4 linked regions of the Homo sapiens genome follow. The protein of the gene in region 1 interacts with the protein of each later gene in a pairwise test. Each region holds a gene or a part of one and is shown in the gene's direction. Other genes may lie near its edges.

The links.
Region 2: the proteins of TEPSIN (region 1) and TRIM50 interact in binary tests that used the Homo sapiens proteins (3 or more experiments, as listed by UniProt).
Region 3: the proteins of TEPSIN (region 1) and FKBP6 interact in binary tests that used the Homo sapiens proteins (3 or more experiments, as listed by UniProt).
Region 4: the proteins of TEPSIN (region 1) and HSF2BP interact in binary tests that used the Homo sapiens proteins (3 or more experiments, as listed by UniProt).

What each region holds. Positions count from the first base shown.
Region 1 is NC_000017.11:81,232,075-81,236,314, reverse strand, and holds part of TEPSIN (AP-4 complex accessory subunit tepsin), read left to right. Parts: intron 1-1,031; exon of another isoform or gene 1,032-2,266; coding exon 2,267-2,334; exon of another isoform or gene 2,335-2,376; intron 2,377-2,598; coding exon 2,599-2,677; intron 2,678-2,713; exon of another isoform or gene 2,714-2,811; coding exon 2,812-2,883; intron 2,884-3,796; coding exon 3,797-4,000; intron 4,001-4,105; exon of another isoform or gene 4,106-4,240. UniProt on the Homo sapiens protein: Associates with the adapter-like complex 4 (AP-4) and may therefore play a role in vesicular trafficking of proteins at the trans-Golgi network.
Region 2 is NC_000007.14:73,325,116-73,329,500, reverse strand, and holds the start of TRIM50 (E3 ubiquitin-protein ligase TRIM50), read left to right. Parts: upstream 1-1,418; 5' UTR 1,419-1,601; intron 1,602-3,925; exon of another isoform or gene 3,926-4,036; intron 4,037-4,385. Other genes in the region: inactive peptidyl-prolyl cis-trans isomerase FKBP6, read right to left, coding at 52-141, 809-926, 1,016-1,072. UniProt on the Homo sapiens protein: E3 ubiquitin-protein ligase that ubiquitinates Beclin-1/BECN1 in a 'Lys-63'-dependent manner enhancing its binding to ULK1. In turn, promotes starvation-induced autophagy activation.
Region 3 is NC_000007.14:73,331,160-73,334,827, forward strand, and holds part of FKBP6 (inactive peptidyl-prolyl cis-trans isomerase FKBP6), read left to right. Parts: intron 1-497; coding exon 498-617; intron 618-3,668. UniProt on the Homo sapiens protein: Has an essential role in spermatogenesis. It is required to repress transposable elements and prevent their mobilization, which is essential for the germline integrity.
Region 4 is NC_000021.9:43,652,822-43,656,489, reverse strand, and holds part of HSF2BP (heat shock factor 2-binding protein), read left to right. Parts: intron 1-3,668. UniProt on the Homo sapiens protein: Meiotic recombination factor component of recombination bridges involved in meiotic double-strand break repair.

The sequences.
Region 1 (4,240 bases):
CCTTCCCAGGCTGTGGGTTCCCCTTCTGGGGCTGCTCCTCGGAGCCCAAGACAGAGTGAGGCCATGGGAGGGCGGAGCTGGGAGGCAGGAGAGGCGGGGCCCCGGCCAGTCGGTCTGTCCAGGCAGAAGATGGGTCTGGGGGAGCTGTCCCCGCAGGCTTGGGGGCAGTCCCATGTGCCTCTGCCTAATGAGGACTTGTGGGGGCTTGGCCTGAGATCTTCCATGGGGTGGAGGGAGGCCTGGCTCCAGGTGGTCACTGGGCGCACCATGTCTGGACCCCACCCCAGCCCCTGAGTGGGGAATTCTGGGGAGGGAGACTGAGTCTGTCTCGTGCCACTGCTTGCTTGTGGAGACCTCAGGGTGTACCATCCACTGGGCTCACCCCAAAACCGGTGTCGAAACCAGTGTTGTCCCACTTTATGGCAAGTGGGCATGCAGCTCTAGGTGTTCCGCAGGGGCCAGTGCCCTGGGCCGCCATAGACAGTTGTGACACATGACTTAGGCAGTAGATGCCCCTGAGGGGACGGCAGTGCGGGGGTGCTCTCGCCATCCTCACAGAGCTCCTCACAGCTTTGGGGCCAAGGCAGCACCAGCCATTTATCCTCACCATTCAGCGGGCCAGAGGGCCCCGGGCTCCAGGCCACTCCCGTGGCTGTGGTTGGTGCATGTACGTCGTGGCCTCAGTGGTCTCGGGGACACGCCCTGGGGTGGGGGCTGCAGCAGGTAGGGGGATGGGGCACAGCAGGACCTGAGGATGGGAAAGGCTCTTCTTCAGACCCTGGGTTCTTGTCGGCACCAGAGTCTCTCCTGTGCAGAGGCAGCTATGGATGATGGCTGTTGCCTGCCGTGCCTGGACACTGGCCCTGGGTGACACACAGGCTGTGGGAGGTGTCAGGACAGGCCCTGTGAGGAAAGTGGGTGCCAGATGCCACACGTGAGAGACGGGGCGCCCTGCTCCAGGTGGTGGGTGTGCAGTGAGGATGGCCTGCCCCACGCGCGCAGAGCGTCAGAAAGAGGAAAGAAAACGCAGCTGGCAGTTACAGACAGATTTTCTTTAGTTAAAACCTGAGAGGCACCCCCAGCCGATTGCGGTCAGGAGCACTTTATCTTACAGACTGAATGTTGGTTTTAGGATGAGAGGGCTTATCAGAAGCTCGGAATGTTTATGTGTGTGGAGAAGTTTATGGCAGGGTTGGAAGGAGGGAAGGTTATCTTGGGGCAGGCATCTTTTCAGCCTGGAGGTGGGTTTTCTCGAAGCTGGCATCTTCCCGGCTGGAGAAGGGTTATCTTGGGGCTAGCATGTCTCTGGTTGGGGAGGAGTTTGGAATGTTTCTGGTTGGAGATGTTATTTGTGGTTCATGGTCGTGCTGACCTTAGCCATTAGGCTGATGCCCTATGGATTTAGGCAGTTTTTGGTTAAGGTGAACTTTAGAATGAGGGGCTTGTCCAAGATGGTGATGCTCCTGCTCTGTCACAGAGCAGGGGCAGCGTGGGGTGGCAGGTGGGTGCCCTGGGCTCCTGCAGGGAAGATGGCAGCCTCAGGGTGTCAGTTCATCCAGCCATTGACTCAGCTTGTGGCCGCCAGCCCTGGGCCCAGGGACAGCCAGGAGCATCGTCTCCGAATCACGGGACCAGCCTGCCAGGGTGGAGGTAGACGGCCGAGGGGCGTGAGTGGATTCGCCTGTGACAGAGGCTCTCGAGGGGTTCTCAGAGGCACAGCTCTCAGCCTGAGCCCTGAAAGGATGCCGCGGCCCCAGGTGTAGGCTTGGGGGGCCCTGGGGCCGGAAGATTTAAGGAAAGAAGCCCCAGTTCATCATGACAGGAACTCTCAGAGCAGGGGAGCTCGAGGCGGCTGAGACTGGGGTTGGGTGGGGCTAGGTGGAGCTTTCAGGCTGTGATAAGAACGCTGGTTTCTCCCTCCAGGCCCCGGAAGCCTCTGAGGGGTCCCTGGTGCACCTGGGGCAGGGAGAGTGGGCTTCGGGGAGGCCACACCCGCTCAGGCACCAGGGGTTGCCGACCCTGGGGGAGACGAGGTGGTTGCTGTGGAGAGAGTCTCGCCTCTGTGGGGCATGGGTGAGGGGGAGCTGAGGGTCTGCTCAGGTGTGGCCTCTGCAGGGTCCTGGAGGAGGGCATCCCATTGGCTGTGACAGAAGGGCCTTGGTGGCAGGAACTTGCCACCCTGGAGTGGGCCCAGGGCACCGTGCTCCACAGGGAGCAGCGGTGCCAGGCTCAGCCCTGCCCCCGACTTGCCTTTTCTGTTCTGCAGCTTTTGCAGGGCCCCCAGATCCTCTGCACGGGAACAGCTTGTACCAGAAGGTTCGCGCGGCCGCGCAGGTGAGCCCAGGAGCAGTGTCGCTCTGCGGGGTGCCCCTCCTCCTGTAGAGGGGTGGGATTGGGGCCAGGATGTCAGCTGGGGGGTTTGCAGTTCTCCCATCCGGGACCCCTGCCTCTGCTCCTTGCTGGTGGACACAGAGCCTGTGTCCAGCTGAGTGGCTCAGGAGAAGTGTCCGGGGGACAGAACGGAGCTGATATGGGTGGCAGGGTGAGTACAGCAGGCCCTGGTGTGAGGACACTGAGGGCCTTCGCCTCCCCCTGTAGGACTTGGGGAGCACCCTGTTCTCGGACACCGTGTTGCCGCTGGCTCCCTCCCAGCCTCTGGGGACCCCGCCTGCCACAGGTAGGTGACTGAGGGGACCGTGTCCAGCTCTGGCACCTGGTTTCTGCCTCCTTGAGTGTCCTGGGTGTCTGTGCCATCCGTGGGCAGGGCCGAGGGTGGGGGCCGGCTTGCTGCTAACGGAGGACCCTCTGCAGGCATGGGCTCCCAGGCCAGGCCGCACAGCACCCTCCAGGGTTTCGGCTACAGCAAGGAACACGGCCGCACGGGTGAGTGGGGAGGGCCTGCATGGGCTCTGGCATCTCAGGGTGTGGGGATGAGGAGGTGGTGGGGGCCGGACCATGCCGCCCCATCTAGTAGCTGCTGTCCCCCGTCCCCTCCCCTACATGGCCTCAACCCTTCCTGGGGCTGTCCCCACTGTCTCTCTCTGGCTGCTGACGTGGGGGTGGGGCAGGTGTGGCCAGGGCTGCTTTATGGACAGATGAGAGAAACCAGGCCGAGCAAGAAGTCAGGGCTGGGCCCCGTGGCAGGGGTGAGTCCCACTCTGAGAGGGGCCGAGGGCTGTGCCCCTGGCTGTGGTGCAGGTGACTCAGGCAGTCCCGTGTGGAGCTGTTATGAGGTGGGGCAGTACCAGTGGACAACTGCTCACCAGCGCCAGGAGAGCCACAGGTGGCACCACTGCCTGCGGCTGGGACCCAGCCCCCAGCCCAGCTGTGCCCTGCTGCCGGGCCCTGGGCGGTGTGTAGCTGCTCACCGTTAGGCTGTGTCACGCCGTCCTGCGCACAGCCTGGGGCTCCTGCCGACACTTTGGTGTCGGGGCAGCTTCTACAGGGAACTCACACAGGAAAGGCCGGCCCCTCCCCGAGCCCTGGACACACCCTCCCTGAGCCAAGGCCAAGCCCAAGCCCCTTAGGACACCTTCACCCCCAGAGGACAGAGGGACGGAGGCATAACTCTGCAGTGAGCTTTGGTGTCCAGGCCCACTGGGAGTGGGAATGCCAAAGCGGAGTCCACTGGGAGCTTCCAGAGGGCCTGGGGCCCACCAGGAGGCCTCCCTACCTGCAGCATGTACCCCGACCTCTCCAAGCTTGAGCAGGGAGCCGATGCGGGCACCCTGCTCCCAGAGAACGCGGGTGGGGGCCGCACTGGGCGGCCGTCCCATCTCCCTCTCCTCGGGTACAGGCTCGGCAGGCGAAGCCTTCCTCTCCACCATCCAGAAGGCCGCAGAGGTGGTGGCCAGCGCCATGCGCCCCGGGCCCGAGAGTCCCAGTACCCGGAGGCTCCTGCCGCGGGGTGACACCTACCAGCCTGCCATGATGCCTTCAGCCAGCCACGGTCCCCCAACCCTGGGGAACCTACTCCCCGGGGCCATTCCAGGTCCCCGAGGTATCGAGGCGAGGGCTCCTCCCCTTGGGGTCTGGGTCACTCCTTCCTGTCACCGCTGGGGCTTTGCGGCCACGGAGGCAAATCCCAGGGCCTCCCACACAGCAGGAGGGGTGGGACCCGCGGCGGAAGCACATGCCCATGGGGCTGGTGTTTGCTGAAGCTGGAGCCAAGGTGGCCACCCATCCTCAGCTCAGGACTCAGCCCCCGAGGCCTCCTGGTCCAGGGCCCCGGGAGGTGGGC
Region 2 (4,385 bases), on another chromosome or scaffold:
CATCTAGCCCCTAAACAATTCCTTCTTCTCCAGCTCCCACTCTGAACCTACCCTCTCCAAGTTTCATTAGCCGAGGAGTTTTCCTAAAGTAATTAGAATCGAAGGGTCTGTCCATGTGTTCCAGGTATCCCGAGTATTTCACTAGGATAGAAGAAAGAATGTAAGGAAAATGGACCAAAAACACCCACGCCACCATAATATCGAGTCTCTCATGATCACACAGAAACAATGTGAACAGATGAGCTTAAGCTGCCCGACACCCCGAGGTACAGGAATAAATCTTCTCTCTGCATTTTGGGTGCCGGCCCTTTGGCTCAGAGGTTCAAGAGCTTTGCGGAAGCATCACACAAAGGGGACATAGGAGTCCCTAGCTTTCGTCTTAAAAAAACTAATTCAGGCCGGAAGCAGCGGCTCATGCTTGTAATCCCAGCTACTGGGGAGGCTGAGGTGGGAGGCTCACTTGGGTCCAGGAGTCTGAGACCAGCCTGGGCAACATAGAGTCCCCCATATCTACAAAAATATTAAAAATTAGCCGGGCATGGTGGATCGCGCCTGTAAATCCCTTATTTGGGAGGCTGAGGCAGGAGAATCACGAGCCCAGGAGGTGGAGGCTGCAGTGAGCTATGATCGCACCACTGCACTCCAGCCTGGGCAACTGAGCAAGACCCCGTTTCAAAAACAAAAAACAAAAATCCACTTCAAACAAAGCATTTCCAACCCCATTAAGTGCTTTTTGAAAATGAGGCCTCTCTCTTCCCAACAGAGTGCGATGACATGGATCCTGAGGACAAACCGCCCCAGGGCGTACCTAGCACCGAAGCATCAGGCGCCACTAGGTCTCCAGCTCCTTCTCGGATGACGTCCTTCAGCACGCCCCGGTCCCCCGAGATGTCCAGCATCCTCTGACTTAACCGCTCGTACAGGGACTGATGGAGAATGAAAGCCAGGCCTCAGAGCCGCAGACCCACCCGGCCACCCCTCAGCGTCTACGCCCCCGAAACGTCTGGGCCCTCACCTGGCCGGGGGCGTCGTCCCCTTCCAGGACTCCCTGGTTTAACGCGCTTCCCCCCATGTCCTAGCTGCCCTCCCTGTGGCGTGAGCCTTCGGCCTGGTGCGCCCCGCTGCCCTCCCTGGCTGTGACTCTGGTGGGGTTCCGAAGGCCCCTTTATGCCCGGCAGACCCCTACCGACGGCGGCATTCCATTCTGGGGCCACGAGGAGGCACTCATCGTTTCGTTCCAACCGCCGCCAACGGCCCTGGCCCTCGCGAGCTCTGGAACTACAGAGGCCACGCGGTGAGGTGCGAGGTATGATCCGTAATGGGAGCGCACGAAACATGATGGGACACGTAACGGGACCACGCAGGGCACGTTGGGTACGTGCAGGGGCGCGAGGTGGCGGCACGTAATGGGAGCGCGCAGAGCATGATGGGGCACGCGCGGTAGCGCGAGGCGGGGCATGTAACCATAGCGTGCGGGTCATGATGAGGCACGGACGTGGGGGGTTAGGTGGGGCACGTAATTGGAGCTCGCGGGGCAGGATGGGGCATCTAACTGGAGCGACAGAGAGCACGATGGGGCACTTACAGGGGCCGGAGGCTGGGTACGTAACGAGAGCGAGCGGGAAATGATGGGGCACCTAACGAGCACGCAGAGCATGATGGGGCACGGGTGCGAGGTGGGGCGCACAGTGGGAGCGCGTGGGGCATGATGAGACACATGGCGAGGCCATCAGGGCACAGGGGAAGCACTTTTGGAACACGTGAGTGACAGGGCTGCCGCCCTTGAAGGAGCCCTCGGAGTGGCTGCGTGGTGGGGCACGTGGGGCAGGTTCAGGAAAAAGGATGCAGCATGTGATTGCAGGGCAACCTGGTGAGGACACGAGAGCCACCTGCCACCAGCAGGGTTCAGGGCTCCCAGCTGTGGGTTACTTCCACCTTCTTTCACTTTCTCTCTTCCATTGTGTTCTAGAGAATTTAGGCCCAGACAAGACACTGATTGATTGATTGATTGATTGATTGACAGAGGCTCGTTCTGAGCCCAGGCTGGAGTTCAGTGATGGATCTCAGCTCACTGCAGCCGCCACTCCCTGGGCTCAAGAGATCCTCTTGCCTCAGCCTCCCGAGTAGCTGGGATTACAGAACTGCACCACCAGGCCCAGCTAATTTATTTTTTAGTTTTTAATTTGCTGGAAAGATGGTTTGTAGCTTTGTTGCTAGGCTGGTCTTGAACTCCTGGCTTCAAGTGATCCTCCAGTCTTGGCCTCCCAAAGTGCTGGGATTATAGGCGTAAGCTACAGCCAACTTTCAATACTGCCCCATTGGGGGTTAAGTTTCCAACACATGAAATTAGGAGGATACATTCAAACCACAGCAGTATATTATGACCATAATATTCATTAACTGTATAACAGGACAGGCGCGGTGGCTCACACCTGTAATCCCAGCACTTTGGGAGGCCAAAGCCGGTGGATCGCTCCAGGTCAGGAGTTTGAGACCAGCCTGCCCCACATGATGAAACCCCATCTCTACTAAAATTACAAAGAATTAGCCGGGCATGGTGGCAGGCGCCTGTAACCCCAGCTACTTGGGAGGCTGAGGCAGGAGAATCACTTGAACCCGGGAGGCGGAGGTTGCAATGAGCCAGATTGCGCCACTGCACTCCAGCCTGGGTAACAAGAGCAAAACTCTGTCTCAGAAAACAAACAAAACCTGTATAACAGAGTGTCATTGAATTTCTAAACGTTGAAAGACTTCACATTAAAAAAAAAACTCACAATTCAATATTATTGAGTGAAAGTAACCAGACACAAAAGAGTACATTCTATATGATGCTGTTTATGTGAAATTCAAAAACAGTCCACATGACAACATGGTAATAAGGACAGTGGCTGTCCTTGTTAGGAGTTATGACTGGGAGGAGGCAGGAGGGAGCTTTCTGGAATCACTCTACATCTTGTTCTTGAGAGTGGGTGTATATACATCAAGTGTTTATCAAGCTGTGTGGTTAAGATTTGCACACTTGTATATGTTATACCTTGATTTAAAAAATCTAAGTAAATAAGGATACCTTTGAATATCTTAAAAAAAAAAAAAAAAGAGGCCAGGCTTGGTGGCTCACACCTATAATCCCAGCACTTTGGGAGGCTGAGGTAGGAGGATTGCTTGAGGCCGGGAGTTCAAAACCAGCCCAGGCAACAAAGCGAGACCCCTGTCTCTACTAAAATAAATAAAACAATAAAATGAAAAAAAATAGAGAGATTGAATCATCATCTGCCAGTTTGTATTAGAAAAAAAGAGAGAGAGAGGGAAGGCTGGGTGCAGTAAGGCTCACGCCTGTAATCCCAGCACTTTGGGAGGCCAAGGTGGGAGGATTGCTTGAGCCCAGAAGTTGAAGACCAGCCTGGGCAACAAAGCAAGACCCGGTATCTAAAAAAATTTTTTAAATATTAGCTTGGCATGGTGGCATGCACCTGTAGTCCCAGCTACTCAGGCAGCTGAGGTAGGAGGATGGCTTGAGCCTAGGAGTTGGAGGCTACAGTGAGCTATGACCACGCCACTGCACTCCAGCCTGGGCAACAGAGCAACAAGCTGTCTTTCCCCACCCCCCAGCCCCCCCGCCCAAAAAAAGGAGAGTAAGAGCAAGAGTTTGAGATTCAGAAAGAACTGTTTCCCAGCACCTATCTGCTCCTGTTGGGGTCATGAGGTGTGGACGGTGTACCCAGTCCCTCTGTTTCTGCCCCTCCTCCACAGTGGCCAAGGCCAGCACCTGAATGTTATCAGAGCAGGCCCAACAAAGGCTGCCTCCCCAGTCCCGTGATGTAACCCAGTTTCCACCTGATTCTGGTGACCTTGGGGACACAGGGGTGTTGCTGGGAAAGGGGAGGAGAGAAGGGGCAGAGACCAGGCAGTGGTGCAGGCGTCCAGCTGCATTTCCCACTTCTGACTCTGTGCCTGCTGTTCCCTGCTGGGAAGAAGGAAAGCCAGTGATGCTGGCTTGAGGCTGTAGTGGGAGGCCCAGCGGATTGTGAGAAGCCAGGTATTCCAATGTCGGGCTCCCCCGGGGGCTGCTGGTGCTGCTTCTGTCTCATTGACAAGCTTTCATAGGGGAGCAGGTGGGAGATCAGGGTAGAGGCCTTGTAGGTTCCAGGCTCTCTAGAATTACCTGGGAGTGTCACCTATAAGTGTAGAGTTCTGGGTCTCACTGGAGACCCCCTGAAGAAGATCCTTTGAAGGTGGGCCTCTAGAATCTCTATTACACCTATGCTTTCAACAGTTTCCCGAAAGTTTGGGAACTGATCTAGAAGGTGGGGAGCTTGCCTAGGTTTTGCTGTTCAGTTCTAGGTCCGGATGCATGCTGGGGCTGGACCTTGCATTATTAGTGTCAC
Region 3 (3,668 bases), on another chromosome or scaffold:
ACTCTGAAGATGGCCAGGGCAGAGCATCATGACCATAAAGACTGCCAGGGCCCTGAGCAAACCAAGACCTGTTCAGTGCTTGGTGGCCAAATAGTGGTTTTGAGCACTGACTTCTGTGCTTGGCAAGTTCCGTCAGTTTTTGATTCCATGGGACACTGCTTCCTCAGAGAACATCAGGGGAAGACTGAAGACGTAGACTTCCTTCTGGCTCTAGGGTGTAAAATGGGACAGGTTATAACACTGGTGTGGCTTCTGTCAGATTCAGAGGTGACTCCAACACAGAAGGCTGTAAACAGAAGTGCATGATCTGAAAAAGAAGAGCTCACAGCTGTAGTAACACTTCCTTTCTTTCAATTACTATTTTTTTAAATGGAGACATGTTCTCACTATGTTGCCCAGGCTGGTCTCGAACTCCTGGGCTCACGTGTACTAACACTTCCATTGTGGCATTACTGCTTTTGGTTTCCTTGCTGAATATTCCTGTCTCTGGTCCTCAGGAGCAGCAAGACCAATTTCCACTTCAGAAGGTCCTGAAAGTGGCAGCTACGGAACGGGAGTTTGGCAACTACCTTTTCCGCCAGAATCGTTTCTATGATGCCAAAGTGAGATATAAAAGGGTGAGAATGCTTTGAAAGTTAAGTGTAAGTTTAGATCCTGAAAACTTCCTTGTTTAAAAAACACAGATTTTGTTTTGTTGTGATTTTTGTTTTGTTTTGTTTTTGAGACAAGAGTGTCGCTCTGTCGCCCAGGCTGGAGTGCAGTGGCGCAATCTCAGCTCACTGCAAGCTCCGCCTCCTGGGTTCACGCCATTCTCCTGCCTCAGCCTTCCAAGTAGCTGGGACTACAGGCACCCGCCACTTCACCTGGCTAATTTTTTTGTATTTTTAGTAGAGACAGAGTTTCACCGTGTTAGCCAGGATGGTCTCAATGTCCTGACCTCGTGATCTGCCCACCTCGGCCTCCCAAAGTGCTGGGATTACAGGTGTGAGCTACCGCGCCCGGCAAAAAACACAGATTTTTGTCTTTCTCCCTACTTTCTATGAGCAGCCATTAAGAAAAATCTCATTTAAAAAAATCCTCATGCCAGGCCAAGGCAGGTGGATCACCTGAGGTCAGGAGTTTGAGACCAGCCTGGCCAACATGGTGAAACCCCGTCTCTACTAAAAATACAAAATTAGCCGGGCGTGGTGGTGGGTGCCTGTAATCCCAGCTACTTGGGAGGCTGAGGCAAGAGAATCACTTGAACCCAGGAGGTGGAGGTTGAGGTTGCAGTGAGCCGAGATTGTGCCGTTGCATTCCAGCCTGGGCAAGAAAGGCAAAAAAACTCCCATCTCAAAAAAAAAAAAAATCCTCATGCCAAAGGGATAAGTACTGGAGAGGGGACTAACGGGGGGATAAGGGCTGAAGAGGGGACTCTCGAGGGGATAAGGGCTGGAGAGAGGACTCACGGGATTGGGAGGCACCTGGGAATGTTCTGTGTTTTGACGTGGTTCTTGGGTACATGGGTGTGTTCAGGTTGTGAAAAACATTTGCCTCTGTATATGTACTTGAACTAGAAGTGTTTAGAATTTCCATCTCACTGCTCTAAAACAATTCAGTTTATTAACTTTTAAAAATTCTCATCCCAGTGCTTATTAGGTCCTCCACCAACCGATTTCTCCACCCCTTTGCCATCATCATTTCATGTCTCTGACAGTGGAGGCTCATTTGGCGATTCTAGCCTGAGGCAATTGCAGCCTCATCAAGCCTCCTGTTGTGATTTTGCTTCTTGTGTAGGTTATGCTGAGCTGTTTTCTGTTTCCTTTTTAATTTTATTCATTCAACAAACATGGCTGGACGCAGTGGCTCATGCCTGTAATCCCAGCACTTTGGGAGGCTGAGGCGAGTGGATAGCTTGAGGTCAGGAGTTTGAGACCAGCCTGGGCAACGTGGCGAAACCCCGTCTCTACTAAAAATACAAAAATTTGCTGGCATGGTGGTGGGTGCCTGTAATCCCAGCTACTTGGGAGGCTGAAGCAGGAGAATCACTTGAACCCAGGAGGCGGAGGTTGCAATGAGCCAAGATCGCACCACTGCACTCCAGCCTGGGCAACAGGGCAAGATTCTGTCTCCAAAAAAAAAAAAAACAAAACACCACACATGCGTGTGCTGTCTCTGGAACATACTCATATAGGCCAAATGTTGCCGACCCTGTCACCCAATATCTATTCCCCCTTCTCCTAACAGAACCTCCCATTTCACTCAAAGCATCAGTGTACTAATTAAAAAACTACATCTTCCCAGCTTCCCATGAGCTTAGGGTGTCCCTGTAACAAGGGTCTAGCCAAGGAGACATAAAGGGAAACCTCTGGAGGGTCTTCCAGAAAGCTCTTAACATAACACAAGCACCAGACTCTTCTCCCCTCCCTCCTTCCCACCCAGGTGACCCCGCAATGCGTGGCCAGGGGAGAATCTCCCTGGGGCCCGCCACACAGCTCTTGTCCTGGGGCTGCCCTATAATGCTAGTTTGTGGATTTCCTGTTTTTTTCTCAACTTACTCCTTTGTTTTAACAGAGTATGTTGATGTATGTCTAAAATATTCTTGGTTTTTAAATACATATTTGTCTAGAGTTGTTATTAAAAAGTCTTTTGGCTGGGCACGGTGGCTCATGCCTGTAATCCCAGCACTTTGGGAGGCCGAGGCGGGTGGATCACCTGAGGTCAGGAGTTCAAGACCAGCCTGGCGAACATGGTGAAACCCCGTCTCTACTAAAAATACAAAAATTAGCTGGGCGTGTTGGTGGGTGCCCATAGTCCCAGCTACTTGGGAGGCTGAGGCAGGATAATTGCTTGAACCCGGGAGGTGGAGGTTGCAGTGAGCCAAGATGGCATAATTGCACTGCAGCCAGGGGAATAAGAGTGAAACTCCATCTCAAAAAAAAAGGTCTTGCTAGTTCTGAGCTCAAAGCTAACAACAACAACAAAAAAATCTTACTACTACTTAGGTTCTTTATTCCTTTCTACGTGACCTGTTTTTTCTTCTGTAGAGACGAAGATCGTTTTTCCCCGGCATTCCTAAATTTTACGGTGATGTGCCTCTGCGTGTGTGTATCTTTTCATTCAGGAAACTTTTCCTCCACTCTGGGAAACTTTCTTGAGTTATTTCTTTGATAATTTACTCTTGTTCCCTCTGCCCTCTTTGTCTGGAACTCCTATTATCAGACCTCCTGCACTGAGCTTCTGGCTGCTGTCCCTCCCCCCTCCCCACCTAGTTTCCATCTTTTCTCCTGTTTGTGTCATGTATGGAAGCTTTCCTTGACTTTTTGCCACCTCTTCTGATGAATTTTTCATTTAAAACTGGGGGGCCAGGCACAGTGACTCACACCTATAATCCCAGCACTTCAGGAGTCCAAGGTGGGAGGATTGCTTGAAGCCAGGAGTTAAAGATCAGTCTGGGCACCATAGCAAGATCCCATCTCTACAAAAAATAAATTTTAGAAAATTGAAGGGCTATTTGTTCTTCCCCTCCCTAGCATTCTGTTCTTGTTTCATGTGTATATTATTTTATATATTTAGACTGTCGATTATAATTTAATCTCATTCTTTTTCTGTTTGGTTTTTCTACATATTGGGGACTGTGTCCTTTTGCACTAAGTTTGTCAATGACCTAAAGATGGTTTATTTCTCAC
Region 4 (3,668 bases), on another chromosome or scaffold:
TACAGTCCTTGTGATGATATTTGGGAGAGTCTGATGACCTAAGAAAGGGAGGTTTCCTCAGTGTAGTGACTTGGACATATGTAAGTTGGTATAAGTTGGTTGCCAGTTTTCTGAGCATCTATTAACAGCTTCTCTTTCTCTCTCTCTTCATTGGCAGAAGAATTTTATACTTTTGATAACTGAAAAGCTCTATTCTGAAAATTAAGTACTTACTGTGTAAGTTAAGGATCTTGCCAAATGGAAACCTTGCATGGAGTTTACTTGTCAGTAGAGATAGCTGGAAGTGTGTTCACTTATCTTTAGGTGGATGGGTGAGCCAGTATCTAGAACTGATTGAAGTTTAGGCTTTCTGGTGTCCATTCAGACTTTTGAGATTTGAGCTGAGCTGTTATGTTGAATACCAGTTTAGGAGCCTATTGAAGTTCCTGGACATACTCTGAGATTGTCTCAGCACTTGCTTGATTGAGGCCAAATCATGATTAAATCAGCCTTTGACGGTAAAGGCCAATTTACTGCATGACATTTGGTTGTTATCCCTCCCTGTGTGCCCTCTAGAAAAGGTGCATCCAGGGGGCCCAGGTAGCTGTAGCACTTGTCCAGACAAGAAGATAGCTCACCCCGAGAATATGAGTTTCTGGCATGTGCAAACGTATCTGGTCAGTGGGCCAGCCACATCCAGTTAGAAGGGACAGTTCTCATCCACCGTACCTTGTCCTGTTTATATTCTCTCCGAAGTCCTTGGATCCAGTCTTCTCTGCCCTGTGGTGTGCTCTGGGAGGTAGATCCCTACAGATGGGGCTCTCCTGGTTCCCTTGCTGGCTGCCAGTGGGGCTCACCAATGGAAGGCATTGCTGGGTGGAGAGAGAGGTTGGGGTGTTTCTTCCTGCTCCCTCCCTGCTTTGCTGCTGTTTTGTGGCAGTAGCTGCATCCCTCCACAACAGAGACTCCTGTCTAGAGGCCTCTTCCGTAGTCCTAGCTCTTGCTGGACTGCCCCTGCTCCTGTGGCTGTAGGGCTGTTGCTAGTCCCTGGGTACCTCGCTGTCCCTTGGTGGTTCTGTTATCTCTGCTCTCCCCTCTGTAAGTGGTCCCTTCAGAAAAGTCTCAACATCTGGGTTGATTTCTCTTTCCCACTGGGACTCTGCCAGATACATGGCGTGTCATTGGTTGCCAGAATGCCAGGTCATTGACTTCTAATTTCTCTAGTTTTGATTTCATGCTCATCCAGCAACTTTCTGAGATTAGTCATTCCTTGTGCATTTATCTTCAGGAAAGGAAGGTAAATAGGCATACACCAGTAGCAGCGTATGGCAGCCTGCTGGTTGGTTATATTCTCACTGTAAATTAATAAACTGGCATTCTAAAAAATACATCAGGGTCTCATGAGTTAGTTAACATGAGTGTCTTTAGTGATCAGTCCCGCTGCCAAAATCAAACCGAGTGAGGGCCACAAACAAATCTGTGGTCACTTGATCACAGTCTGCCTTTGGGAGATCTTATCTCATAGTCCCGGCCTTTCCCAGGCTATAGAGTCACCTTTTTCCCCATAGTCTCTCTGGCAATTCCTGCTTATTCCCCTTTGCTGAAATTTATCCTTCTCTGCTTTGCAGCCTTCCAATAGGGCTTGAGACTCAGGCCTAGGCCCCGCTCATTGCCTCACCCCATGGCTTCTCCCTAGGCAGTCTCATGCACACTCACAGCTTCAGTTACCGTCTTGATGCCAGTGGCTGCTGGATTTACTCTCTAGCCCAGAACTCTCCAAGCTCACGGCCTTGTGCCTGACTCCGACTTGGCATTTCTTCCTGCTTGTTTCATGATTATTTCAAATTCTAAATGTCTGCCCTAGCCTAATCAGTCTAAGGTCGCCAGGAACAGACCCACAGTCTGACAGAGTGAGGTTTATGGCTCTTTGCAGTGAGGAAGACCATACCAGAACACCGAGAAACTGTGGGGCATGTCAACAAAAAAGAGGATAGAGTTGTTGTAGGACTTGGAGACAGAGTGGTATTAGGTGAAGCATAAATGAAGCAAAATAGAACTGTGTCTAAAGGGACCAATATTAAGTCTGACTGCGAAGCGGACCCAGGTCCCGTTTCCTTGAAAACTACAACGTTCAAATAGACGTGGAACATTGTTCTAGAAATCCCTTACTTGAAGCTCTGCAGTAGCTGGAAATAGGGTTCTTTTCTGTGTCACAGTGACTTAGATCCTGCAGGCAAGAGTGGGATCTTCTTACTTGTATAATTTCAAAGAACAAAATTTGTGCGAGTCTGGGATTTTACAGAATAAGGCTTCTCAGTGAATAAGAAGTTAGCAGTCACTCAAAGAAGAGGTCATTATGACACTTTACAGTTGCATTGTCTTTGAGAGATATTTTCTGTTAACTTGGCACCTGACTTTATCTGTGTTTGTTATTCCAGCCTGACAGAAGTCAGGACAGACTTTTGCTTTCTCGGTGCAAGCTGATTTTTACTTCCTGTTGTCATATCTGCCTCATGCTATCTGTTCCCTGCCCCTGTCTTACACTGGCCTGCCTCAGTCTCCCCAGAGCACCAACACCCAGACTAGAGACCCAGGAGTCTTCCTTGTTACCTGTCTCTCTTCCTCACTACTCCGCATGAAACCTGTCCGCTAGTAAGTCTTGTGAGTGTTACTTCATGGATGCATCCTGAATCATCAGCCTGCGTCTGTCTCCACTGCTGTGTTCTGCCTCCTCCTGGCGGTCTCCTCACTGCCACTCTCCAGTCCCTCAGACACACTGTAGCCTGAGTAGTTTGTGGCAGTTCAATCTGATGATGCCATTCACCTGCGTAAGTCTTCAGACGCTTCTCTTTGTTTTTAGGATAAAGAGCAAAAACCTAAAAACCCCACCCAGACTCATTATCATCCAAAAACCTAAGCAAAACCATACTACGGCTTAAAAGGCTTTATATTATTGGGCACAGCCCCGGCTCAGAGTCACTGCCTAATCTGACTACCTCGACATGATCAATCTTCCTTTGAAATGTTGTCATGGTACCCTATGCTTCCTTCAGACACATGGTTTTATTTCCATTTTACTTTATAAGCTGTTGGGAGTGCAGGGCCCCTGATTTTATCTGTCATTATCTCGGCCCCTGATTTTGTCTGTCATTATCTCCCTGGCTGATTATTCGGTCTTGAGGGAGCACCCTACTGTCTCTGCATGCCCTTCTTTCTTTCTCTCTCTCTCTTCCTTCCTTCTCCCTTCCCTTCCCTCCCCTCCCCTCCCCTTCCCTTCCCCTTCCCTTCCCTTCCCCTTCCCTTCCCTTCCCCTTCCCTTCCTTTCCCTTTTCTCTCTCTCTCTCTCTCTGTGTCTCTCTTTCTCTCTTTCTTCCGAGTCTCACTCTGTTGCCCAGGCTTGAGTGCAGTGGCATGATCTCAGCTCACTGCAACCCTGCAACCTCTGCCCCCTGGGTTCAAGCGATTCTCTTGCCTCAGTCTCCCGAGTAGCTGGGATTACAGGTGTGTGCCACCACGCCAGCTAATTTTTGTATTTTTAGTTAGAGACCAGGTTTCACCACGTTGGCCAGACTAGTCTTGAACTCCTGACCTCAGGTGATCTGCCCGCCTCGGCCTCCCAAAGCACTGGATTACAGTTATGAGCCACTGCGCCTGGCCTGATGCCCTTCTTTCTAGTTTGCAGTCCTATC